Regions from separate parts of the Homo sapiens genome. Here region 1 is linked to region 2. Evidence: fine-mapped QTL for protein levels in blood plasma. A gene starts in region 2. The other region holds a variant in brackets. All regions are shown on one strand. Distances are from middle to middle. Region 1 holds the start of LOC124903618 (a long non-coding RNA gene). Region 2 holds the start of WFIKKN1 (WAP, follistatin/kazal, immunoglobulin, kunitz and netrin domain containing 1).

What was found. PIP is the posterior inclusion probability: the model's chance that the variant is causal. Sun 2018 read protein levels with aptamers (SomaScan).
Region 1: its variant is fine-mapped to the plasma level of the WFIKKN1 protein (Sun 2018, PIP 0.95).

The regions. Positions count from the first base shown.
Region 1 is chr16:608,704-624,440 of GRCh38, forward strand. It overlaps RAB40C (RAB40C, member RAS oncogene family), which reads left to right. Exons shown (of 6, transcript NM_021168.5): 2 at 8,505-8,565; 3 at 9,497-9,557. LOC124903618 (a long non-coding RNA gene) reads right to left here and starts at 7,561. Exons shown (of 2, transcript XR_007064934.1): 1 at 2,151-7,561; 2 at 1-987. RefSeq lists enhancers at 2,564-2,693, 12,998-13,751. The variant T/G (reference allele first, on the strand shown) is at 11,005.
Region 2 is chr16:625,576-635,513 of GRCh38, forward strand. It overlaps WFIKKN1 (WAP, follistatin/kazal, immunoglobulin, kunitz and netrin domain containing 1), which reads left to right and starts at 5,410. Exons shown (of 2, transcript NM_053284.3): 1 at 5,410-5,849; 2 at 7,007-8,542. The coding sequence starts at 5,679. The coding sequence ends at 8,482. It overlaps RAB40C (RAB40C, member RAS oncogene family), which reads left to right. Exons shown (of 6, transcript NM_021168.5): 5 at 324-546; 6 at 1,767-3,693. The coding sequence ends at 2,047. METTL26 (methyltransferase like 26) reads right to left here. Exons shown (of 6, transcript NM_032366.5): 3 at 9,706-9,765; 4 at 9,314-9,381; 5 at 9,144-9,222; 6 at 8,855-9,069. The coding sequence ends at 9,022. RefSeq lists enhancers at 1,832-2,565, 4,035-4,768, 4,294-4,588, 4,769-5,503, 9,670-9,938 and a silencer at 1,952-2,202.

The sequences.
Region 1 (15,737 bases), 14 kb before region 2:
TACAAAAAATGCAAAAAAAATTAGCTGGGCATGGTGGCGGGCACCTGTAGTCCCCACTCCTTGGGAGGCAGAGGCACAAGAATCACTTGAACCCAGAAGGTGGAGGTTGCCATGAGCCAAGATTGTGCTACAATTGTGTGGCGGCTCATACCTGTCATCCCAGCACTTTGGGAGGTCAAGGTGGGCAGATTGCTTGAGCTCAGGAGCTCAAGACCAGCCTGGGCAACACAGCGAGACCCCTGACTGTACAAAAGATACAAAATTAGCCAGGTGTGGTGGTGCACACCTGTAGTCCCAGCTACTCAGGAGGCTGAGCTATGAGGAGCACGTGAGCCTAGGAGTTGGAGGCTGCAGTGAGCCTTGGCCTCACCACTGCACTCCAGCCTGGGTGACAGAACGAGACACCTTCTCAAAAAATAAAAATAAAAACGTGGACTGATAGGTGAGAGAGGTTTGATGGTTTGGGAACAGCGGTGCTGCCACGGCTGGGTGAGGGGCCATGCGATCTGCTTGGAATGCCATGTGAGGGGAAGGGGAGGTCAGGGCAGTGCCTGGTGTGGTTCCCAGCAGGGAGCACAGGAGGTTTATTCTCTGGGAAAATTGAGTCGTGGACAGCAGACACCACTGGGGATGGTGGGGGACAGGGTGGCAGGGGACAGGGTGGCCTGAGCAAGCCCCTCCTTGCCTGGGAACTCAGGGCCTCCTGATATGCAGATGGGAGCCCGTGGCAGGATGATGGCAGGATAACCGTCAGCCCAAAAGAAGCGGCCACGAGACGCCGCCGAGAGCCCCAACTTAGAAGCCAGAGTCACCAGCTTCCTGGCTAGGGTCTGTCCTTGAGGGTCACCAGAATGTGAGGAAAGACCCAGACAGGCAGGAAAAGAGCTCAGGGAAGGACATCTTACCATTGGCGTCATCAGAGATACCGCATCCACGAATGAAGAGCCAGACGCTGCCAGAGGGGAACGCTCAGAGCACCGGAAGGAGCTTTTAGAAATTATAAATAAGCAGCACATTTTAAAAAAGCCATAGAAGGGCTAGAAAAGAAAGTTGAGGACATCTCCCAGAAAATAGAACAAAAAGAGATTAAAAAACAACTGGGCAGTCCCTGCAGAGGTCACCCTGGCTGGCGCGGCTCAGGATGGAGGGCGGGAGCTGTGTGCCTGGAGGGGGGAGCTGAGGCACGTCAGGATGTGTCTCCAGACTGCAAGGGCCACAGAGTACGAAAAAGACCACCCAGAGCAATGTGGTCAAAGACCATGCCTTAAAAGGTTTTAGGAAACAGAATGGGTCCCACGGGAGGGTGGGGATGTGAACGGCACCAGCCTGGTGGCTCGGGTGCCAGGCCAGGGCCAGATGTAGCCTCATACCAGCCCAGCTGGGAGTCCGCTTGCTGAGACTTGGTCTCCTGTAGCTGGTGGGGAAGCGGCACCCTGTGCGGTAGACAGAACCAGCAGCCGAGGCGCCGGTGGCTTTGCTCTGGTGGCAGGACAGGTGTTCTGACCTCCCTGCCTCTGTCCCCTGAGGTCAGAGCGCCTGTCCTGTGGAGCGGCTCTGACCAGGACAGTGCCGTGTGTCTCATGGGGTTGTGTTCAGGTCGGCTGAGAGGCAGCGCCTGGCTGGGGCTAGATGAACAAGAGGGTTATTGGGAACAGTAAACCTGAGGTGGTGAGCAAGGCCTGTGGCACCCAGCAGATGAGGAGGAGAGCAGGGGGAAGGGTGGCAGGAGTTGCTGGTGCTGCGTGAGGCCTCAGTGGGCCTGCACGGAGCAGCTGACCTTCACTGGCGCCCTTGCCTTTTCACTGAGCCGGGTATTAGCTTAGCTTATTTTTGAAAAGACATTTCAACAGGAGGTAAAAATGAACAGCACACCAAGAGAATATGTCACAGCTGATGCCTAGGGACCCCCTTATGGGGTAGTGTTGAGCTCTGCAGCCGGAGCCCACTGCCCCTGCCCCTGCGCCGTCCCCCAGCGCGGGCTCCAGGCCTCTCCTGGGTCACTGCTCTGTGCCTCCAGGAGCTCCTCCCTCTACCCCGCCCTGCCCCACCCCGTCACCTGCTTGCCCTGACCCTGCCTGGATAATTGAGACCTTCCAGGCCAAGGGCCCCCTCCCCAGGATCCTGACACCTGTCCCTCTGAGAGTCCAGACCTTTTCCAGAGTGACATCCTGGGGCCCTGTGTGGTCAGAGGGCTCCATGTGGTCAGTGGCTGTGGCTTGCTGGGAACAAGACACTCGGCTGACTGTGCTTAGAGAACAGGCCGCTGTTTGTGTCTAAATGGTATCCATGGGGACGTTGTTTCATAGTCTTCTTACACTTTTCCTCTTCACTGTTGCTGAGAATCCTGTTCTGACGCGCACCGTGGGCAACCGGGTGCGGAGCCTGCAGGATGGGTGGGACGCAGACGTCCAGCGGGAGGAGCATCCCAGAGCAGCCTCTGATTCAAGAGCAAGGTGCTCTAGAGGCCCCGGCTCTGTGGGTGGGTGACGTGGTCCCCAGGCTTTTCCCGGCATCCCCGTTCCTTTTGCAGCAGCCATGGCTCCTGGTGGCCCTGGGCCATGGCGCCATCTAGGGGTGGCCTAGGGGAGTCCCCGGGCCATCAGCATCTGTCTTGTGGGTGTTGCTGGCGCCTGCCTGCTTGGCCACATTGGCACGTCGAGGTGACCGTCAAGGAGAAGCAGCTATGGCCTTTGTGGCAATCGTGGTGTCCAACTTTGGCCTCTCAGGTCAGCCTCATGGGGGCTTCAACAGCCAGGACCAAAATGACCAAGGCCCCTCCGTCCCTGTGTCCCTGCTTGACAGAACCACCGGAGGAGGGAGGTGCGGGAAGGGTGTTGACGGCCTGAGCGCGGTGCCTCCCTGAAGAGTGTTGTTTCACTTGTGAGTGTGCACGGGACAGCCGCCCTGGCCTGTAGAATCAAGAGCAGGGACAGCCGCCCTGGCCTGTAGAATCAAGAGCAGAGACAGCCGCCCTGGCCTGTAGAATCAAGAGCAGGGACAGCCGCCCTGGCCTGTAGAATCAAGAGCAGGGACAGCCGCCCTGGCCTGTAGATTCAAGAGCAGGGACAGCCGCCCTGGCCTGTAGAATCAAGAGCAAGGGACAGCCGCCTTCGCCTGTAGAATCAAGAGCAGGGACAGCCGCCCTGGCCTGTAGAATCAAGAGCACGGGACAGCCGCCCTGGCCTGTAGAATCAAGAGCACGGGACAGCCGCCCTGGCCTGTAGAATCAAGAGCAGGGACAGCCGCCCTGGCCTGTAGAATCAAGAGCAAGGGACAGCCGCCCTGGCCTGTAGAATCAAGAGCAAGGGACAGCCGCCTTTGCCTGTAGAATCAAGAGCAGGGACAGCCGCCCTGGCCTGTAGCATCAAGAGCAAGGGACAGCCGCCCTGGCCTGTAGAATCAAGAGCAGGGACAGCCGCCCTGGCCTGTAGAATCAAGAGCAGGGACAGCCGCCCTGGCCTGTAGAATCAAGAGCAGGGACAGCCGCCCTGGCCTGTAGAATCAAGAGCAGGGACAGCCGCCCTGGCCTGTAGAATCAAGAGCAGGGACAGCCGCCCTGGCCTGTAGAATCAAGAGCAGGGACAGCCGCCCTGGCCTGTAGAATCAAGAGCAGGGACAGCCGCCCTGGCCTGTAGAATCAAGAGCAGGGACAGCCGCCCTGGCCTGTAGATTCAAGAGCAGGGACAGCCGCCCTGGCCTGTAGAATCAAGAGCAAGGGACAGCCGCCTTCGCCTGTAGAATCAAGAGCAGGGACAGCCGCCCTGGCCTGTAGAATCAAGAGCACGGGACAGCCGCCCTGGCCTGTAGAATCAAGAGCACGGGACAGCCGCCCTGGCCTGTAGAATCAAGAGCACGGGACAGCCGCCCTGGCCTGTAGAATCAAGAGCAGGGACAGCCGCCCTGGCCTGTAGAATCAAGAGCAAGGGACAGCCGCCTTTGCCTGTAGAATCAAGAGCAGGGACAGCTGCCCTGGCCTGTAGCATCAAGAGCAAGGGACAGCCGCCCTGGCCTGTAGAATCAAGAGCAGGGACAGCCGCCCTGGCCTGTAGAATCAAGAGCAGGGACAGCCGCCCTGGCCTGTAGAATCAAGAGCAGGGACAGCCGCCCTGGCCTGTAGAATCAAGAGCAAGGGACAGCCGCCTTCGCCTGTAGAATCAAGAGCAGGGACAGCCGCCCTGGCCTGTAGAATCAAGAGCACGGGACAGCCGCCCTGGCCTGTAGAATCAAGAGCACGGGACAGCCGCCCTGGCCTGTAGAATCAAGAGCAGGGACAGCCGCCCTGGCCTGTAGAATCAAGAGCAAGGGACAGCCGCCTTTGCCTGTAGAATCAAGAGCAGGGACAGCCGCCCTGGCCTGTAGCATCAAGAGCAAGGGACAGCCGCCCTGGCCTGTAGAATCAAGAGCAAGGGACAGCCGCCCTGGCCTGTAGAATCAAGAGCAGGGACAGCCGCCCTGGCCTGTAGAATCAAGAGCAGGGACAGCCGCCCTCACCTGTAGAATCAGCAGGGACAGCCGCCCTGGCCTGTAGCATCAAGAGCAGGGACAGCCGCCCTGGCCTGTAGCATCAAGAGCAGGGACAGCTGCCCTTGCTTGTAGAATCAAGAGCAGGGACAGCCGCCCTCGCCTGTAGAATCAAGAGCAGGGGACAGCTGCCCTCGTCTTTAGATTGAAGAGCAGGGACTGCCGCCCTCGCCTGTAGAATCAAGAGCAGGACTGCCGCCCTGGCCGGTAGAATCAAGAGCACAGTGCAGCAGCACGCAGCACACTCAGCGGATGGAGGGCCTGGCTTCTGCACGCCGGCTGGCACTTGCTGCCAGTTGCCCTTTTCTGCGAGGCTGGATCGTGGTGCGGTGGTGGCTTGGATGGGTTTCTCTGCTGAACGATGATGTGGAATGCCTTTTCACTGCTTCTTGGTCGTCGGTTTTTCTTCTTTGGGGAAATGTCTATTCAAGTCCTTTGCCCTTTTTTTAAAGTATAATTTCCGTATTTTTTTCCCCAGAGGATAGTTTGTCTTTAGTCCTTAAGGACTCAGCTCCTTATGTGGGTCTTAGTGGGAGTCGTGGGCAACACCCAGGTCTAGACCCAGGTGGAATGCATGGTCTTGGGGCCTTGGTGGGGGTCGTGGGCAGCACCCAGGTCTAGACTTGGGTGACGTGCATAGCCCTGGACTTGAGGAGCAGGATTCCTGACTGGCTTGCTGTGAAGGGCACCACTGGGGCAGTGACGCAGCTTCACACGCAGCTCGGGAAGCACACAGTCGGCGCAGATGCTTCCAAAATGTCTGCAAGGCTGCGGCCTCTACTGCATCCAGATGGTGAACTGCCTAACTCTACCGCGTCCCGATGGTGAACTGCTAACTCTGCCGTATCCCGATGGTGAACTGCCGAACTCTACCGCATCCCGATGGTGAACTGCCAAACTCTACCGCATCCCGATGGTGAACTGCTAACTACCGCATCCCGATGGTGAACTGCCGAACTCTACCGCATCCCTATGGTGAACTGCTAACTCTGCCGCATCCCGATGGTGAACTGCCTAACTCTACCTCGTCCCGATGGTGAACTGCCTAACTCTACCACATCCCGATGGTGAACTGCTAACTCTGCCACATCCCGATGGTGAACTGCTAACTCTGCCGCATCCCGATGGTGAACTGCCAAACTTTACCTCGTCCCGATGGTGAACTGCCTAAACCTCGTCCCGATGGTGAACTGCCTAACTCTACCGCATCCCGATGGTGAACTGCCTAACTCTACCACATCCCGATGGTGAACTGCTAACTCTGCCGCATCCCGATGGTGAACTGCCAAACTTTACCTCGTCCCGATGGTGAACTGCCTAAACCTCGTCCCGATGGTGAACTGCCTAACTCTACCGCATCCCGATGGTGAACTGCCTAACTCTACCACATCCCGATGGTGAACTGCTAACTCTGCCGTATCCCGATGGTGAACTGCCAAACTTTACCTCGTCCCGATGGTGAACTGCCTAACTCTACCTCGTCCCAATGGTGAACTGCCTAACTCTACCACATCCTGATGGTGAACTGCTAACTCTGCCGCATCCCGACGGTGAACTGCCAAACTCTACCTCGTCCCGACGGTGAACTGCCAAACTCTACCTCGTCCCAGTGGTGAACTGCTAACTCAGCCGCATCCCGATGGTGAACTGCCAAACTTTACCTCGTCCCGATAGTGAACTGCCTAACTCTACCGCATCCTGATGAACTGCTTAATGGCGTTGTCCCTGGGTACACATTGGGTGCAGCTCCTGCAGTCATGGGCTGCTCACAGCCGTGGCCCTTTTGGCACAACCATTGTTCCTTCTTGTCTTGGAAACGAGGACCCGAGGGAGACCATCCGTCCATCCTAAAATTGGGACGTTTGGTTTTCTGTTGTTGAGTTGGAGTTATTTGTAGAGTCTAGAGATCAGTCTCTAGGAGACGTGTGATCTGCAGACATTTCCCTCCATCTCTGGGTTGCATTTTTCTGTCCATTGATGGTGTCCTTCGATGCATGAGAACAGCCTTTGATGTACATGTAGGGGTTGGTCAGGCAGAAGGACGGTGTGGGTGGAAGCGCTGATGCCTGAAGAAGGGCACCGTAGGCAGAGAGACCGCATGGCTGGCTTGCAGGGCTGGGCCCGCACGGAGAGACAGATGTGCACAGACACACACACAAGCCCACTGGGCAGGTGCACTCCGTGGGAGGGCGTCGCTTATGTTTAAAAAGTGCCCGTTTCCAAGCCCCTTGGAGAAAGTGTCATAAAAAGACAAAACGTGAATGGTGTTTCTAAGGTGGGGGAAGGGGCTGAGCCCTAAAGGTAGAAGCTTCTGGAAAGTTTCCAGAGGGCCCAGAGCCTGTTTAAGATGTCGTGCCTGCGTTAAGTGTCCAGAACTGTCTGCTCCTTTCAGTTTCTCTTGGACTGACCTTTTCCTATAAAACTGTAAGGAAATAAAAAGTAATGATGTGATGTGGGCCGGGCACGGTGGCTCACACCTGTAATCCCAGCACTTTGGGAGGCCAAGGCGGGCGAATCACCTGAGGTCAGGAATTTGTGACCAGCTTAGCCAACGTGGCAAAACCCCGTCTCTACTAAAATTATAAAAATTAGCCGGCTGTGGTGGTGGGCACCTGTAATCCCAGCTACTTGGGAGGCTGAGGCAGGAGAATCGCTTGAACCCGGGAGGTGGAGGTTGTAGTGACCCGAGATTGTGGCACTGCACTGCAGCCTGGGCGACAGAGTGAGACTCCATCTCAAAAAAGAAAAAAAGGCCGGGTGCAGTGGCTCACGCCTGTAATCCTAGCACTTTGGGAGGCTGAGGCGGGTGGATCATGAGGTCAGGAGATCGAGACCATCCTGGCTAACACGGTGAAACCCCACCTCTACTAAAAATACAAAAAATTATCCGGGCATGGTGGCGGGCGCCTGTAGTTCAGCTACTCAGCAGGCTGAGGCTAGATAATGGCGTGAACCCGGGAGACGGAGCTTGCAGTGAGCAGAGATCGCACCACTGCACTCCAGCCTGGGTGACTGAGCAAGACTCTGTCTCAAAAAAAAAAAAAAATACCAATGTGGCAGGCAGGCTGGTGGCTGTCTGAGGTCAGTCCAGAGTCCGGAGAAGCAGCATTTTATTTATTTATTTATTTATTTATTTATTTATTGAGTACTGTCACCCAGGCAGGAGTGCAGTGACATGATCTCGGCTCACTGCAACCTCCACCTCCCAGCTTCAAGTGATTCTCCTGCCTCAGCCTCCCGAGTAGCTGGGATTAAAGGTGCCCACCACCACACCTGGCTAATTTTTTGTATTTTTAGTAGAGACGGGGTTTCACTGTGTTGGTCAGGCTGCTCTCAAACTCCCGACCTCATGATCCGCCCGCCTCGGCCTCCCAAAGTGCTGGGATTACAGGCGTGAGCCACCGCGCCCGGCCAGAAGCAGCATTTTTAAACTTGTTTGGCCCTCCCTAACACCAACCTTGGCAGTTCCTGGGCTGCAGTAAGCCGAGACTTGGAAATACATTCGCCTTGGAGAATTCAACTTCAAAATGCATACGAAGTAGGTCAGGGTGGAAATAAAGGCACTGCCCTTTCTCCAGGCACGCTGGAGTCCACGCCCTGCCTTTGCCCAATGCCCTCTGAGGGAGAGGCCCTGTGCCTTGCACCCAGCGCGGGCCACAGGCGGAGGCCCCATTCCAGGCAAGCCGTGCCCATGGAGAGGCTGGCCTGCTAGGCTGTGGGGCCCGATGGCCTGACACTGTATGGACCACGCTCCTGCCCTGCCCTGCCCCGCCCTGCCCGTGGCCCGTGTGCAGAAGTGGGCAGGCCTGGGTTGCTGGGCCAGAGCCCCGAGATTTCCCCCTGCCCCACTGGCTGAGTGTGGGGGAGCTGCTTCTCCACTTCCGCGTGGGTCTTGGCCCTGGGAGGCCAGTGGCCGAGGCTGGTCTCGCGGGCGCTCGCTCCAGGAGTGGCGCGTCCCCTCAGCGCCCTGTGCTTCCTCGCAGGGATCGACTACAAGACCACCACCATCCTGCTGGACGGCCGGCGCGTGAAGCTGGAGCTCTGGTGAGTTGGGGCTGCGGCACTTCAGTTCCTGGGTGAGGACACAAATGCCGAAGGGAGAACAGAACCCTTAGAGAAACAGGAAGGCGTCCTGTTTGCATTTCACTTGGAAGAGCCACTTACACAGCCCCTGTTTAAACATAGAATGGATTTTACTCCAACAGGAAAAAGACAGTCTGGGACACTGTGTCCCTAGAGATCGCGGCTCCCCTCCTGCCCCGGAAAACCTGATTCCGTGGTGGCTGTGAGCCCCTTCCCTCCCCTTCTGTCGGCTTCACCTTAAAAAGCATTTCCCAGCGGGGTGTGGTGGCTCACGCCTGTCATCCCAGCACTTTGGGAGGCCGAGGCAGGAGGATCACCTGAGGTCAGGAGTCCAAGACAAGCCTGGCCAACATGGTGAAACGCCATCTCTACTAAAAATACAAAAATTAGCCAGGTGTGGTGGCGGGCGCCTGTAGTCCCAGCCACTCAGGAGGCTGAGGCAGTAGAATCACTTGAACCCGGGAGGCAGAAGTTGCAGTGAGCTGAGATTGCACCACTGCACTCCAGCCTGGGTGACAGAATGAGACTCCGTCTCAAAAAAGAAAAAAAAAAAAGCATTTCCCAGAACGTCAGCGTTGATGAGACGTGAATGTCCACAGGGTTGGGGTTCCCCAGCCTGGCAGGACAGTCTCCTGGAGCTCCCAGGCTCATGTGAGGAGCTTGCTCACTCCCCAGGTGGGCGGGGGCCCCTTCTGCTGCCTGCCTGGCTCAGCGGCACGGCGCCAGGCTGCTGTGACCTGTGCAGACAAAGCCGCTTAGCACAGCCTCATTGGCACCTGTCCTGGCCGCCCCGCTCCCCTCAGGACATCCAGGTGGGTCGGCAGAGGAGGGAAGGAGGTGAGCCTCTCACAGGGACCACAGTCCCGGCCCCTCCCCTCCCCGTATGTTTCAGGGACACGTCGGGCCAGGGCCGGTTCTGCACCATCTTCAGGTCCTACTCCAGGGGCGCTCAGGTAAGACCAGCACCGCTCTTTCCATTGCTTTTCAAAGGATGTTTCTCCTGATTCTTTCTGAATGTGAGTTGTTGTCCTGTCAAACTCCCAAGGACTTTCTTTCTTTATAAGGATATTCTCACATTGGTTTGTTTATTTGTTTGTTTTGAGACAGAGACTCACTCTGTCACCCAGGCTGGAGTACAGTGGCACAGTCTCGGCTCACTGCAGCCTCCCCCTCCCGGGTTCAAGCGATTCTCCTGCCTCAGCCTCCCCAGTAGCTGGGAGTACAGGCGCAGTGGGTGTACTTGGAGCTGTGTGTGTGCACAGGTGTAGTGGGTGCACTCAGGGCCATGTGTGTGTGCAGCCATGTGCACAGGTCTGGCGGGGGCACTGGGGCCATGTGTGCAGTGTGTGCGCAGGTGTGGTGTACTTGGAGCTGTGTGTGTGCACAGGTGTAGTGGGTGCACTCAGGGCCATGTGTGTGCAGGCATGTGCACAGGTCTGGCGGACGCACTGGGGCCATGTGTGCAGTGTGTGCAGGTGTGGTGTACTTGGAGCTGTGTGTGTGCACAGGTGTAGTGGGTGCACTCGGCCATGTGTATGTGCAGGCATGTGCACAGGTCTGGCGGGGGCACTGGGGCCATGTGTGCAGTGTGTGCTCAGGTGTGTACTTGGAGCTGTGTGTGTGCACAGGTGTAGTGGGTGCACTCAGGGCCATGTGTGTGCAGGCATTTGCACAGGTCTGGCGGACGCACTGGGGCCATGTGTGCAGTGTGTGCAGGTGTGGTGTACTTGGAGCTGTGTGTGTGCACAGGTGTAGTGGGTGCACTCGGCCATGTGTGTGTGCAGGCATGTGCACAGGTCTGGCGGGGGCACTGGGGCCATGTGTGCAGTGTGTGCTCAGGTGTGGTGTACTTGGAGCTGTGTGTGTGCACAGGTGTAGTGGGTGCACTCAGGGCCATGTGTGTGTGCAGGCATGTGCACAGGTCTGGCGGGGGCACTGGGGCCATGTGTGCAGTGTGTGTGCAGGTGTGGTGTACTTGGAGCTGTGTGTGTGCACAGGTGTAGTGGGTGCACTCAGGGCCATGTGTGTGTGCAGCCATGTGCACAGGTCTGGCGGGGGCACTGGGGCCATGTGTGCAGTGTGTGTGCAGGTATGGTGGGTGCGCTTGGCCACCCTCGTTTCTGTCTCCTCTGGGCCCCCAAGCACGCTTTTGTGCTGACTGGATCTGCTGGCGAATGTGAGGCCGGAAGGAGGGCAAGGACGTGAAGCCCATGTAAACAGACCTGTCATGGCCACTGTTGTTGCTGCTTCAGTGGGAGGGATTTGAGCGGGTCTGTCCTGTCTGTGATGCCCCTAAGAGTTCTGGAAGAGCCAGGAGAGCCCCTCCGGGGCCAGTTCGTGAGCCTGGAGCCCCCCATGTGGGCCCAGGGAGGCCGCCTGGGTCTGGGTCTGGATCCTTCT[T/G]GGGGGAAGGTTCAGGTCTGTGCCATGCAGCTTCTGGCTCAGGTGGGTCCGCTCTGGGCAGGAAGCTGCCCAGGTGCGAGGGGGATGGACACTGGAGCTTCGTCCCATGGCAAGCTCATTTCCTTCCATTTCTACACTGAAGTGTAGTCGGTGTTGGATCTGATGTCTTCTACCTGCTGGCGGTGGGTGGGAAGGACGCCAGGGCGGGCTGGGTCGCACCCTGTCCTGGGAGTTCCCTCGGAGATGTTGGCAGCTCCCTCATGGGAGCAGAAGGGCCTGCAGGCTCCGTGCCATCCCTGTGAGAACTGGAGCAACATGGCCGTGATTCGTGGAGCAGGCAGGTGGAAGACGGGCAGGCTCAAGGATGCATTCCATGGGCCCTGCCTGCTATTGAAAGAGGAGTTGGGGCTGGTGCGGTGGTTCACGCCTGTAATCCCAGCACTTTGGGAGGCCAAGGCAGACAGATCACGAGGTCAAGAGTTGGAGACCAACCTGACCAACATGGTGAAACCCCATCTCTACGAAAAATACAAAAATTAGCCGAGCATGGTGGCGGGCGCTTATAATCCCAGCTACTTAGGAGGCTGAGGCAGGAGAATCGCTTGAACCCAGGAGGTGGAGGTTGCAGTGAGCCGAGATTGTGCCATTGCACGCCAACCTGGGCGACGAGTGAAACTCCATCTCAAAAAAAAAGGAGGAGCTGTGTGGGTGATTTACATCTACAAAAATGCCTTCTTGTCTTCCTTTTGCTTTTAAGTATTTCGTGATTTTTCTGCAATAAACATATACTATTTTGGTATTAAAAAATATGGGGCGCAGTTATGTTGGATGACAATAAAGGGTTGTTGGGGAGATACTGGAAAAGGCAGCAGGGAGGCTGAACCTGACAGGCTCCACTGCGGGCATCCCAGCCCCCCCCGACGGGCTCCACCGCGGGCATCCCAGCCCCCCCCCGACGGGCTCCACCGCGGGCATCCCAGCCCCCCCCGATGGGCTCCACCGCGGGCATCCCAGCCCCCCGCCGACGGGCTCCACCGCGGGCATCCCAGCCCCCCGCCGACGGGCTCCACCGCGGGCATCCCAGCCCCCCGCCGACGGGCTCCACCGCGGGCATCCCAGCCACCCCCCCCGACGGGCTCCACCGCAGGCATCCCAGCTCCCACACAGGGAGGTCTGTGGGACACGAGGCCAGTACAGTCGTGATTTCTGTTCAGCTGCATGAGAACTAAAAAAGAAAAAAGCAGTTCATAAGCTCTGCATTTGCCAGGCTGAGGTCCTGGAAAGCAAGCTCTGTTATCATCTCCGTGTTCTTTCCAAAGCATCTGGCACAACTGGTTATGTCTTTGTTTTGTCTTGTTAACTCTGGAAATTCTGAGCTGTCATTTTCCACATGCGAGGAGCAGGTTACAGACCCAGGTGCACATGTTGGTCCTGGGTTGAGGGTGCCAGGTGCTTCCTTGCCCCGGGAGAAGCACCTGAGTCTCCAGGCGGGCCTCTGACCGCCGTGACTGAGCATTTGGGCCACCCCGGGAGCCCAGCCCTGTCCTGTGTCTCTCCTGCCTGGTGAGCAGCGGTGAGGTGCGGGTGCATCCAGCCGAGGTGCAGAGCCCAGGTTTGCAGCAGGGTTTCTCCCGCCGCCCCTGATGAGACACAGACTAGCAAGGACTGTCTGTCCCAGCCGGGATTTGTCACTCTGCCTCCCTCCGTTAGAGAGTGGAGAGGCCTGGAAGGTCCCCGCGGCCTGGGTCTTGCAGATGGCACCAGCAAAGGCCACCGGCCACTCCCCGCTGCCGTCACCTGTCACACAGCAGCAGTCCCGCGGCTCTTCCCGCGAGGCCCTTCACGTGCCGCCGAAGGCCGGGCTCCCTAGACTTCATGGTCGTGTTTGCATATTCTGTTGCTGTGATCTGAGACGGCCCCTCTCAGAAGCGGGTGCCACAACCCGCTGGTGGGATGAGTGGGTCACCCAGGTGCAGGTCCCTTGGTGTGTGGAGGGTGGGGTAGGCTCCTTGTAACTGCAGTGTGGCTGACGGGATGTGCCATCCTGTTTAGCTGAGAATTTGGGGTCAGCGGGCTTAGTGCCAGGAAGGCTGTGGCCAAGTGCCATGTCTGCTTCAGGACAAAGGTGTGGATTTGTTTCCCTGAGAGGGGGTTTATGTGGAGCGTGGTACGGGAGGCACACGTGCTGCTGGCTTGTCGGCACACAGGTGGGCGGGTGGATGTGAGTGGGCGCGGCTTGGCAGTAGCTCCCATTTTACATGTCAGTTGCTCCTGGGCAGAGCCTGGGTGCAGGGATGCAGGAGGAGGGCTTCACTCTCGCTGGCTGTACCTTGGGAGCTTCAGCCACATGGGTGGAAGGGGCATGTGTTTGTCAAAATTCATCAAAATGTTCAAACCTCGGATCTTTGTATTTTGTGCTTTGTAAGTTACAGCTCAGTAAAAAATGATAGCAAAAAGGACACCCACTCTTAGGCCCAGCAGTTCTACTTCTGGGAATTTATCGTGTAGGTCGAGTTGATCAAAAAAAGGTGTAAACGTGCTCAGATGCATATTGCCACCGTTACCCAAGAGCTGGCGCAGTACCAGTTCACGAGCAGGCGGGGGTGCTGGGCCTGAGCTCAGGGCGTGCGGGTGGGAGCAGCGCCAAGTGCCTCCACCCCCTTGACCCCGCCCGCGAGGCATGAGCGGCACCGTGGACACGTCTGTAGACGCTGAGGAAACTGACTGTCAGGGCGGCTCCTAGAGGGGCCTAGAGCAGGGCGAGCGCGCGTCCTGACTCATCCCCTAGAGCACTCGCTCGTTCTTTTGTTTTGTTTTTTGAGACACGGTCTGGCTCTGTCGCCAGGCTGGAGTGCCGTGGCGCGATCTCGGCTCACTGCAACCTCCGCCTCCCGGGTTCACGCCATTCTCCTGCCTCAGGCTCCCGAGTAGCTAGAACTAGGTGTGCACCACCGCGTCCAGCTAATTTTTGTATTTTTAGTAGAGACGGGGTTTCACCATGTTGGCCAGGATGGTCTCCATCTCTTGACCTCGTGATCCGCCTGCCTCGGCCTCCCAAAGTGCTGGGATCGCAGGCGTGAGCCACGGCGCCTGGCCGAAGTCGCTAGTTTTTTAAAAATCAGATCAGTTTTAGAAAACAGAAGGCAGTGGAAGAGTCTGTTTGTCCCGTGCTCTGCCCCTTGAGACACGCAGCTGAGGGTGCTTAGGGTGCCGTTCGTTAGGCGGCTGCTGGTCACCGAGAGTCTCCTTTTGGTTTCTCACTCCGTGGTCATTTGGGTCCCTGCGGCCTCACTGTGACCCACGCCGGAGCAAGCCTCCGGGTCCTCCTGTGCCATCGCCCCTGCCCGTAACCCCTACTCCTCAGACATGGCCATCCCAGGAAGTGGGGGCCCGCTCAGGGCAGCAGCCGGGAGGTGTGGCCAGGGCCCCCCGCGTCACAGCACACTTGGAGCCTGAGGCAGCCCATCAGCCGGGAGGCGGGCCTTCTGCTCTCTTTCTAGAGTTTTCAGTGTCATGCGAATAGGGGTGTTTGCCACAGAAAACAGGTCAGCATCAAAAGTTACCCCTCTCCAGCCTTTTAGCATTTGTTTTATGTCCATATAAACTTCTTCAGTGTAATGTGTTGTGTGTTCATACTTTTATTTTTTAAAAATCATGCTGGGCCGGGCGCGGTGGCTCACGCCTGTCATCCCAGCACTTTGGGAGGCCGAGGTGGGCAGATCGGGAGGTCAGGAGATCAAGACCATCCTGGCTAACACGGTGAAACCCTGTCTCTACTAAAAAAAAATACAAAAAAATTAGCCGGGCATGGTGGCGGGCGCCTGTAGTCCCAGCTACTCAGGAGACTGAGGCAGGAGAATGGCGTGAACCCGGAAGCGGAGATCGTGCGGCTGCACTCCAGCCTGGGCGACAGAGTGAGACTCCGTCTCAAAAAAAAAAAAAAAAGAAATCATGCTGGGCTGGGCACAGTGGCTCACACCTCTGATCCCAGCACTTTAGGAAGTTGAGGCAGGAGGATCACTTGAGGCCAGGGGTTCAAGACCAGCCTGGGCAACATAGCAAGATCCCATCTCTAAAAAATGTTTAAAAAAACTTAGCCAGATGTGGTGGTTCACACCTGTATTCCCAGCCACTCAGGAAGCTGAGGCTCAGAATATCAGGCTGCAGTGAGCCATGATCGTGCCACTGCATGAACCCCAGCCTGGCTGACAGAGTGAGACCCTGTTTCAAAAAAAAAGAAAATGCCATCCGCAGTGCTGGGACCTGCGTTCTTACCTCACCTGGGTTGCACATCTCTCCTTGGCCAGCATGCACGCTTTTACATGCACTGCTGCTGTCTTCAGCATCTGCACGGTACATTTCACTGCCGCTTACTCAGCTGTCCCCTGAGGCTGGACATTTAATTTGTGTCTGGCTTGTCGTTGTTATCAGCGCCACTGTGACACACATCCTCAGTTACTTCTGAGTTGTGGGCTTGCCATGCGGGAGGTTGCCATGCGGGAGGTTGCCACTAGGGAGAGTGGGCTGTGTTGTACGCTTTGGTGGCCCACTCCCCAGTCTCTCCACCTCCCCCAGCAGCAAATGAGCCAGCCCCAGTCCCTGTGCCCCAACCTCCAGGGTTAACCCCTGGGTGTGCATTTGTTTATTCTGAATCTTATCATTTATCGCCCACCAGACTGACTTGGCCATCTCTGGCCTCGAAGGGTCTCCCTCAGCGAGAGGTGTCCTTCCTG
Region 2 (9,938 bases):
AGGCTCTGGATTCCCGCCTGCCGCCCCTCCTGTGGCCCCGGCTCTGCACCCTGCACTGTCCCACGGCCTACGCCTGGGCATGCTGGTCACTGTGCACACGACAGTCGGGCGTGGAGCCCAGCAAGACCAGGAGCTACGGGGCCACCCGGAAGGGCTGCACTGTAGGGCCTGAGCCCTGGGGTCTGCCCACCTTGACCTCCGCCCACCTTGACCTCCCACGGCCCTCACCCCATCATAGTCCAGACAATGAGGGCGGGCCCTGCTGCGGCTGAGGGGTGGGTGGCACCCTGCGTTTGTGCGTCTGCTGAGTTCTGTGCCCCCAGCATGCACCCGGAGTCCCCCGGATCTTGGTTGGAAACCGGCTGCACCTGGCCTTCAAGCGGCAGGTCCCGACGGAGCAGGCCCGCGCGTACGCAGAGAAGAACTGCATGACCTTCTTTGAGGTCAGCCCCCTGTGCAACTTCAACGTCATCGAGTCCTTCACGGAGCTATCCCGCATCGTGCTCATGCGGCACGGCATGGAGAAGATCTGGAGGCCCAACCGAGGTGGGTGGGCGGGCGCCGGCCAGCCCTGAGGTCCCCGAACCTGGGCTGCCCTGATCACATGGAGGCTGAGGGGGGCCAGGGGCCAGTGAGGGAGGTTCAGGCAGGTCCCTTGGCAACGCGCAGTAGGGGCTCGGCCGGCGGCAGGTCAGTGACTTGGTAAGAGCAGCCTCGGGGGAGAGGCGGCAGCACTGGGGGGCACAGGAGCAGCTGATGACCCCCCCTCAGGGTGCCGCCGTGGCCGCTGCACTCTGCCATGCCTGTGGGTCCCTGGCATTGCTGGTGTGGGCAGTGTGTGCTCGCTCCTTCCTGGTTCCGGGGCTGGTCCTGCTGTCAGGGGAGCACAGGAGCCGTGCCTGCAGCTTTGTGTTGTGTCATCTGCTCTTCCTGGGTAGCCACATCCTTGATCAGAGGCTCCCGTGAAGCCCCCCTCAGGGAGGTGGTACTGTTGATTTTGTGGTGCCTCCCAGCAGGGTTCACTGCTGAACAGAGAGAGGGTGGCTGACGGTGTCACTGTCCTTCTTAAGAGGAAGCACGGGCCTGGCACGGTGGCTCACTCCTGTAATCCCAGCACTTTGGGAGGCCACAGCAGGTGGATCACCTGAGGTCAGGACTTCGAGACCAGCCTGGCCAACACGGTGAAACCCCGTCTCTACTAAAAATACAAAAATTAACCGGGCGTGGTGACGCACACCTGTAGTCCCAGCTATTCGGGAGGCTGAGGCAGGAGAATCGCTTGAACCCAGGAGGCGGAGGTTGCAGTGAGCGGAGATCGTGCCACGGCACTCCAGCCTGGCGACAGAGCGAGACCCGTCTCAAAAAACAAAACAAAAGAATGAGCGAGTGCTCTAGGGAATGAGTCAGGACGCGCGCTCCCCCGCTCTAGGGGATGAGTCAGGACGCTTGAAGGGCCAGATCACGCAGCCCTCACACTGGGAGCTGCATCATCCAGGCCAGGAACTGGGCAGAGTGCCCTCTGGAAGCCCCGCAGCAGCACCGCCCAGCGTGCCTGGCTTTAGGGAGCAAGGCAGGGGATGGGGTGCCAGTGGACACATCTGTGCTGGGCAGAGAAGTTTGGGCGTCCAGGTCCTCCAGGAGCCCAGCCTGGGAACACCTCTAGGAGTGTGGAGACCCCGCCAGGCTTCTCTTGGGCACCTCAGGTCTCCCTGCACAGGGCCTCCTCCCCCACAGCCCCATGGTCTGACACCCCCTCTGCCCCACAGTGTTCAGCCTGCAGGACCTCTGCTGCCGGGCCATCGTCTCCTGCACCCCCGTGCACCTCATCGACAAGCTTCCACTGCCCGTCACCATCAAGAGCCACCTCAAGTCCTTCTCGATGGCCAACGGCATGAACGCGGTCATGATGCACGGCCGTTCCTACTCCCTGGCCAGCGGGGCCGGGGGCGGCGGCAGCAAGGGCAACAGCCTCAAGAGGTCCAAGTCCATCCGTCCACCCCAGAGCCCCCCCCAGAACTGCTCGCGGAGTAACTGCAAGATCTCCTAGCGGGGATGGGCGGGGCCGCCTGTGCAGATGCCAGGAGGGCTCGAGCTGGACACTCCTGGCTGGACGCCAGGCCAGTGCCGCCTACGTGGAGACTGTCCACACAGCTGCCTCAGAAGCGCCGGGCTTTCCTCACACCTGAGCCGGGTGCGAGGAGGAGCATGCACGGACCAAGCGCGGCAGGCGGGAGGAGGGGGCGCGGCTGGGCTGCTGGTGCTTCCGGGAATCTTGGTCGGAAACAAGCCGGGCCTCCCCAGCTGCCTGGGCTTGACCGGCGGGGAGCCTGGTTGGCCTTTCTTATTTATATAGAGAACACTTCACTTTTTTGTACATTTTTAAGGGGCCTTCAGGGAAGCCTGGGTGTGGCCCGGTGGTGGTGCACTGGTGACTTCATGGCCACGCCAGCTGCGGGGACGCACTTGGGACTCCTCGAGAGGGGACTCGCGGCCGCGATGGCAAGGCATCCTGTGAATTCATGCGCTGCGAGTGGCGGGGCTGCCCAGAGGCCGGGGGAGCAGACAGGGCCGGTGCTCCCTCTGGAAGCTTGGGTGACCGGGGCCCTGGCTCCCACGGGATGGAGGGTGTGGTCCTGTGGTCAGAGCCCAAGCAGCACTCAGGAGAGGGGAGAAAGGAGGTGCACCTGGCAGCCCACATTTTTGTTGCTCCCCAAATCCCTCCCCACGTGGGGATGAGAACCTTCCTGCTGTGATGTGACACCTTCGGGGACATTGACCACTCAAAACTCAGATCATCTCGCCCACCCTGGAGAGTGCAGAGCTATCTGTAGACTTAGGAATACTTGATGGGCAGCGGTGCAGACCCCGGGCACCTGCGTGCAGCCTCCTGTTCTCGGCAGCTTCTGTCGCTGGCCCTGGGGTCCCCACAGCTGCAGCTCTCCTGTGAGGTTGCACGGCATCAGAACCATCCTGACCTTCTTAGGGACGTGCCTGGAACCACCTCGTCCACGTCCACGTCCACCTGGGGGCCTCGGGAGGCTAGGCCCCTCCTCAAAGGCCCACCAGCCCGGCGCTCATGCTGAGCCCCAGGCACGCAGGGCCGGCCACCTCTCTCCTGAAGCCATTGGCCGCTCCTCCACCCAGTGCTTCTGCCCATGCCTGCCCCAGCAGCCCCTCTGCACGGTCACCATCGCCTGGGCCTGCCCACAGCACTGGTGCTCACCTCTACCTCCTGTCCTCAGGCCGTGCGGCACGACATGGCCAGCACGCAGAAGGAGCCCTCCCGGGACCCAGGACCCCCCGTGGTGGACTCCGCGGCACATGCTTCCCAAGGTGGTCCCACGGAGGGTGTTACTGGGCACCAGTGGACTCGCCCCATGGCCCGTTCCTGGGAGATGAGGGCCGTGGCCTGCATGAACTACCAGATGAGTAAGGGAACCCCAGGCAGGCGGCCCTGCCACAGCCCCCAAAGACACTGGCCTCCTGCTCCAGCTTCCCTGTCCTGGCCCCACCTGTCCTGTTGCTGCCAGCAGGGCCCTTGTTTGGGATTATGAACAAACCTCACAGACTTTGAGGACCTGGATGGTCCTGCATTCACGGCATCAACACTACCCGCGCTGCTGTTAGACACTCCGCCATTCCTGGTTCTCTCCGAACCGTTCTTTGTACAGTAAATGTAATTCAGCTGTGGTCCCCACGTTTTGCTGTGTCTGGTGGGGTGGGTCTGGCAGTGGCGGTGCCCCGTGCCAGGGGCCAGTGCTGCTTCATACCCGGCAAACTGACCTCTGGCCTTTGTTTTGCCTGCTGTTCCCTGCGCTGACCGGGCTGACCTGCCGCGGTTGGCTGGGTTCGCCTCAAAGTGAGGGCTGGAGCTGGGCTGGAGCAGCTGGGCCTGGTCACGGCCATTCTCCTCTTCCCGGTGGATGGAATCCCAGCTGGGCTGTGCTGAGCCCTCGCTCACAGTCCCCGGCAGCAGATGGCCTGGGGCGGACTGTCCCCAACAGCAGCAGGACTCCAGAGGGCCAGGTCCTCCAGTCAGTCGGCCCGCTCAGCAGAGCCGCCTGCACGCTGGCCAATCTGGTGTCTGCTATGCCCGGCCCAGGGGGGTGTGGACGCCCCGGAGGTCACAGCTGAGCTGGAACGGGGCACTCCAGTTGGTACAGGGACCAGACCACAGCCTCTGGCTCAGGTGCCTCCCTGTGCTGTTTCGTGGGCATGTCCGGGCCTTAAGCCCCTCCCTGGCAGCTCCAGCCCAGCCGCCTGCTGCTGGGTCTGGCCTAGCTACCCCCACCCCCACGCTATCAGGGCCCACCCCCAGTCTCCTTGTAGAGCAGGGACTGGCGCCTGGAGCCGTCTCCGGGTCTCATTCTGACCAGACCAGGCTCCTGTTACCCTGCCTCCTGGGTCAGAGGTCAGACACAGGGTCAGGGGGACACTCCCATCCGGTCTCAAGAGAACCACTCCCTGAGGCCCCAGACATCTGGAGCCACAGAGGGTTTGGAAGGGTAGATTCCAGGCAGCCTTTTGTCCTGCTGCACCAGGCAGGCCAGCCCCCTGCCCTCCCCAACGAAGAGGAGCCAGCCTGGGGATGTGTGCCCCGCCGACGGGGGGCTGGGGCAGGGCAAGGCTCTGGTGCCCTGGGACACTTGCTCTTTTCAGCTGCAGACGCCCTTGCACTTGGCCTTCCCTCGGGCGGTGCCATCCCACGCGGAGCCACGTCCAGGGCTACACGGTGCGTGGGCCGAGGCTCCGGCATCAGCGTTTCGGGCTGTTCTTATGCTTGTGGTGGCCACAGGCCTCTTCCTGCTGCACCTGCCCCGCCTTGGGGACAGGCCTGAGCCCCAAGCCCGCTGCCTGGTTTCAGGGATGGGGTCTCTGGGAATGCAGTCCTGCCGGGTTGGGCCCCACTCCAACAGGGGCAGCAGAGCAGAGGAGGCCGGGCTGTGCTGGGCGTCCTGCAGACCCCTGTGCCCCTGAAACAGCCATGGAGGGGGGAAGGAACCTCGGAGCGGAGTGAAGCCCTCGGCCGCACGTGACCGTTGCCAGCCTGGACCTGGCCCGGGGGACCCAGGCTGTGGTCAGCCACGCTCTGCGGGGAGGGCCCGTGCCTGCCACCCCCATGGCATAGGAGCCTGGGGTCCAGAGGGCGCCAGGGACAAAAGCTGGGATCTGCTGGCCCTGCCCCCACCCTACTGAGGGTCGTCAAGGAGATTGATCTCAGCCCAGGGGTGGACGAAGGGGTTCAGGTTACAGGGTCCCCTCCCCTCCCCCTCTCCAGCCAGAGCCAGCCCTTCCCCGCCCCGGTGACCCTCATGGCCAGTGGCTCTGTGCTCATGGGCCTCTGGCCCCTCCCCAACCTCCTCCCCTCTGCCCTGTGCTGACCAGGGCCTGGGAGCCCCCGCACGGTTCAGACAGAGGGGCCAGGCTGAAGCTGGAGAGGAACCAGCGTCACACAGACGGCCTCTGAGAACTTGGAGACCCCGTTACCCACCCAGCAGGGGTGTCAGGACAAGCATCTGCTGCAGGCTTCAGCCTCAGGGGCAAAAGGGAGCCCCGGGGTCCTGGTGGGGGCACCGACCACAGGCCCGGAGGGTGGATGCCTGCAGGAAGCTGGGCTCTGTGGAGCCCGAGGAGGGGCTGGTGGCCACACCCCCCGGCCCCCTGGCTCGGCGGCCCTCATGCCCGCCCTACGTCCACTCCTGCCGCTCCTGCTCCTCCTCCGGCTGACCTCGGGGGCTGGCTTGCTGCCAGGGCTGGGGAGCCACCCGGGCGTGTGCCCCAACCAGCTCAGCCCCAACCTGTGGGTGGACGCCCAGAGCACCTGTGAGCGCGAGTGTAGCAGGGACCAGGTGAGTGTGGTCGGGCCGGGGTCCTGGGGCTCAGAGCAGCCAGCCTGGGCAAGACCCTGCTGGAGGTGCCACCTTCTGCCTGGGCTCCCCAGACTTCTGGGGGGTCTGGGTCTGGGCCCCTTAAGGGGCCCAGAGACACCCCCATCGTTGCCCTCATTTGTCTTAAGAATAAGAGCCCTCCCCACTCCAGCTTTCATGCTCCCCATGTGCCTCCACCCTGGGGCACCATCATCCTCGGCGACCACCCCCACCCCGTCACTGCCTCTCCTCCCACCCTCTCCTCCCACCCTCTCCTCCCATCCACTTCTCCCACCCCTTCACTGCCTCTCCTTCCATCCTCTCCTCCCACCCTCTCCTCCCATCCACTCCTCCCATCCACTTCTTCCATCCTCTTCTCCCACCCCGTCACTGCCTCTCCTTCCATCCTCTCCTATCCACTCCTCCCATCCACTTCTTCCATCCTCTTCTCCCACCCCATCACTGCCTCTCCTTCCATCCTCTCCTATCCACTCCTCCCATCCACTTTTTCCATCCTCTTCTCTCACCCCGTCATTGCCTCTCCTTCCATCCTCTCCTCCCATCCACTTCTCCCACCCCTTCACTGCCTCTCCTCCCACCCTCTCCTCCCATCCACTCCTCCCATCCACTCCTCCCATCCACTTCTTCCATCCTCTTCTCCCACCCCGTCACTGCCTCTCCTTCCATCCTCTCCTCCCACCCTCTCCTTCCATCCTCTCCTCCCACCCTCTCCTTCCATCCACTGTCCTCCCTGTCCTCCCACCCTCCTTCCATCCGGGACCAGTGCAGATGGTGGTGGGGGTGCTGCAGCCGATGTCCAGCCTTTGTCCTGGCCCGCACCACCTGCTGGGTGGTCCTGAGCACTGTACGCCCTCCTTGGGCCTCAGTTTCCTCGTCTGTACAACGTAAAGAATAACGGAACTTGCTTGTGGGTGTGAGGATTCTGGAAGGTAAGCCAGGTGGCACCTCTGGCGAGGTGGCTCCTCACACAGGATGGAAAGGACACTGAGTCCCCGGGGAGGCAGCCACAGAGCGGGGGGCTCCCTGCTACCCCACCTGGGCCTCCCCTTGCAGGGGCCAGGCCAGAGCCCCGGGGCGGGGGGCATTGGGGCTCCCACCTAAGTGTCCCCCATCCCCAGGACTGTGCGGCTGCTGAGAAGTGCTGCATCAACGTGTGTGGACTGCACAGCTGCGTGGCAGCACGCTTCCCCGGCAGCCCAGCTGCGCCGACGACAGCGGCCTCCTGCGAGGGCTTTGTGTGCCCACAGCAGGGCTCGGACTGCGACATCTGGGACGGGCAGCCCGTGTGCCGCTGCCGCGACCGCTGTGAGAAGGAGCCCAGCTTCACCTGCGCCTCGGACGGCCTCACCTACTACAACCGCTGCTATATGGACGCCGAGGCCTGCCTGCGGGGCCTGCACCTCCACATCGTGCCCTGCAAGCACGTGCTCAGCTGGCCGCCCAGCAGCCCGGGGCCGCCGGAGACCACTGCCCGCCCCACACCTGGGGCCGCGCCCGTGCCTCCTGCCCTGTACAGCAGCCCCTCCCCACAGGCGGTGCAGGTTGGGGGTACGGCCAGCCTCCACTGCGACGTCAGCGGCCGCCCGCCGCCTGCTGTGACCTGGGAGAAGCAGAGTCACCAGCGAGAGAACCTGATCATGCGCCCTGATCAGATGTATGGCAACGTGGTGGTCACCAGCATCGGGCAGCTGGTGCTCTACAACGCGCGGCCCGAAGACGCCGGCCTGTACACCTGCACCGCGCGCAACGCTGCTGGGCTGCTGCGGGCTGACTTCCCACTCTCTGTGGTCCAGCGAGAGCCGGCCAGGGACGCAGCCCCCAGCATCCCAGCCCCGGCCGAGTGCCTGCCGGATGTGCAGGCCTGCACGGGCCCCACTTCCCCACACCTTGTCCTCTGGCACTACGACCCGCAGCGGGGCGGCTGCATGACCTTCCCGGCCCGTGGCTGTGATGGGGCGGCCCGCGGCTTTGAGACCTACGAGGCATGCCAGCAGGCCTGTGCCCGCGGCCCCGGCGACGCCTGCGTGCTGCCTGCCGTGCAGGGCCCCTGCCGGGGCTGGGAGCCGCGCTGGGCCTACAGCCCGCTGCTGCAGCAGTGCCATCCCTTCGTGTACGGTGGCTGCGAGGGCAACGGCAACAACTTCCACAGCCGCGAGAGCTGCGAGGATGCCTGCCCCGTGCCGCGCACACCGCCCTGCCGCGCCTGCCGCCTCCGGAGCAAGCTGGCGCTGAGCCTGTGCCGCAGCGACTTCGCCATCGTGGGGCGGCTCACGGAGGTGCTGGAGGAGCCCGAGGCCGCCGGCGGCATCGCCCGCGTGGCGCTCGAGGACGTGCTCAAGGATGACAAGATGGGCCTCAAGTTCTTGGGCACCAAGTACCTGGAGGTGACGCTGAGTGGCATGGACTGGGCCTGCCCCTGCCCCAACATGACGGCGGGCGACGGGCCGCTGGTCATCATGGGTGAGGTGCGCGATGGCGTGGCCGTGCTGGACGCCGGCAGCTACGTCCGCGCCGCCAGCGAGAAGCGCGTCAAGAAGATCTTGGAGCTGCTGGAGAAGCAGGCCTGCGAGCTGCTCAACCGCTTCCAGGACTAGCCCCCGCAGGGGCCTGCGCCACCCCGTCCTGGTGAATAAACGCACTCCCTGTGCCTCAGACCTCCTGGCTTGCTGCTGCTGGTCGGGCGACCCTCATCCTTCCAGGTGCCCCATGCCCAGCCAGTTTCCGCTGGGGCCTTGACACCCACTGGGGCTTGGGCTTTGGTACAAGGTCACCAGGGAGTGCCTGTCCGCCCCTGCATCCCCAACCAGCTCCATCCTGCCTCAGCAGCTGTCTCGGCCCCAATCCCACTGCCCGAGCTCCAGCAGCAAGGATCAGGACGTCCCAAGCCCTTGACCCCACAGGAGACCCCGTCTCCCACCCAACCTCACAAGGTGCTCCTAGGAGGAGGTGGGGCAGACACCAGCAAGCCGGCAGCAGGACATGCTTTATTCTGAGCAGGCTGGGCCCTTCGGCCAGCGGCTGAGAGCACAGACTGGGTGGGGCTGTCGTCCACAAGGTCCGGCCTAGGGAGGCAGGGTTCGTGCCTCACAGAGCCTCCGGCAGGGATGCAGGTGTGCGGGGGTGAAGGAGGGGCTTAGTTTTTCCGGAAGATCAGGCATTTGTTGTTGGCTGGCATGTCCACCTGGAGAAACACTTTGCTGGAGGACGGCCCTCAACCCCTAGAGAGGTTGCCTGGGCCCCCGCTCCCCCACCTACCATCCTCTCCAGGAGCAGGCCACTGGCCTTTCCCAGGTCCTCCAGGAGGGCTGTGTCCCGAAGCCCCCATTCTGGGTTCCTGCAGAGGGTGGGGAGATGGAGTCATGGCCTGGGGGGTGCCACCCAAGCCACCTGCCACCTGAGCCAGACCCCCCGCCTCTAGCTCTGACCTGCATCTGAGCATCAGGTCAAAGTCCACGTTGCTCTGGGGGGAGATCTTCCCATTGATGGCATAGGGCTGTGGGCATGGGGACACAGCCCACTGGACCAAGGTCGGGGTATTTCCCAGAGAGCCTGGGACAGACTTGCAGGCTGGGGTTTGGAGAATGAAAGGGCACCCCCTCCCTGTCCCCAAGAGGGAGTCAGCCAAGGCCAGCCTGGTGGGCAAGGGGGTAGGGAGGCTGGCAGATGACCCAGGGAGGGGTACAGACTGGAAGTGGAGGGGAGGCCGTGCTGGTGGCTGGGCGGGGGGCAGGGAGCCCAGGAGGGAGGACTCTCAGCAGGGCAGGAGACAGCAGCTAGGACTGGGAGCGGGAGGCCCGCCGTGGACAGGCCCACTCACCCCGTAGGTGATGAGCAGGGCCCTGGGTTTGAGCAGGTGTCCTGCTGCTCTGAAGAGCCCCTGGTGAGTAGGAACAGGACGGCAGTGAGGTGCTGCCCCCAACAGAAGCCAGGCCCTGAGGCTGGAGACCCTCACCCCGACTGTGATGGGGGAGGCTGGAGACCCTCACCCCGACTGTGATGGGGGAGGCTGGAGACCCTCACCCCGACTGTGATGGGGGAGGCTGGAGACCC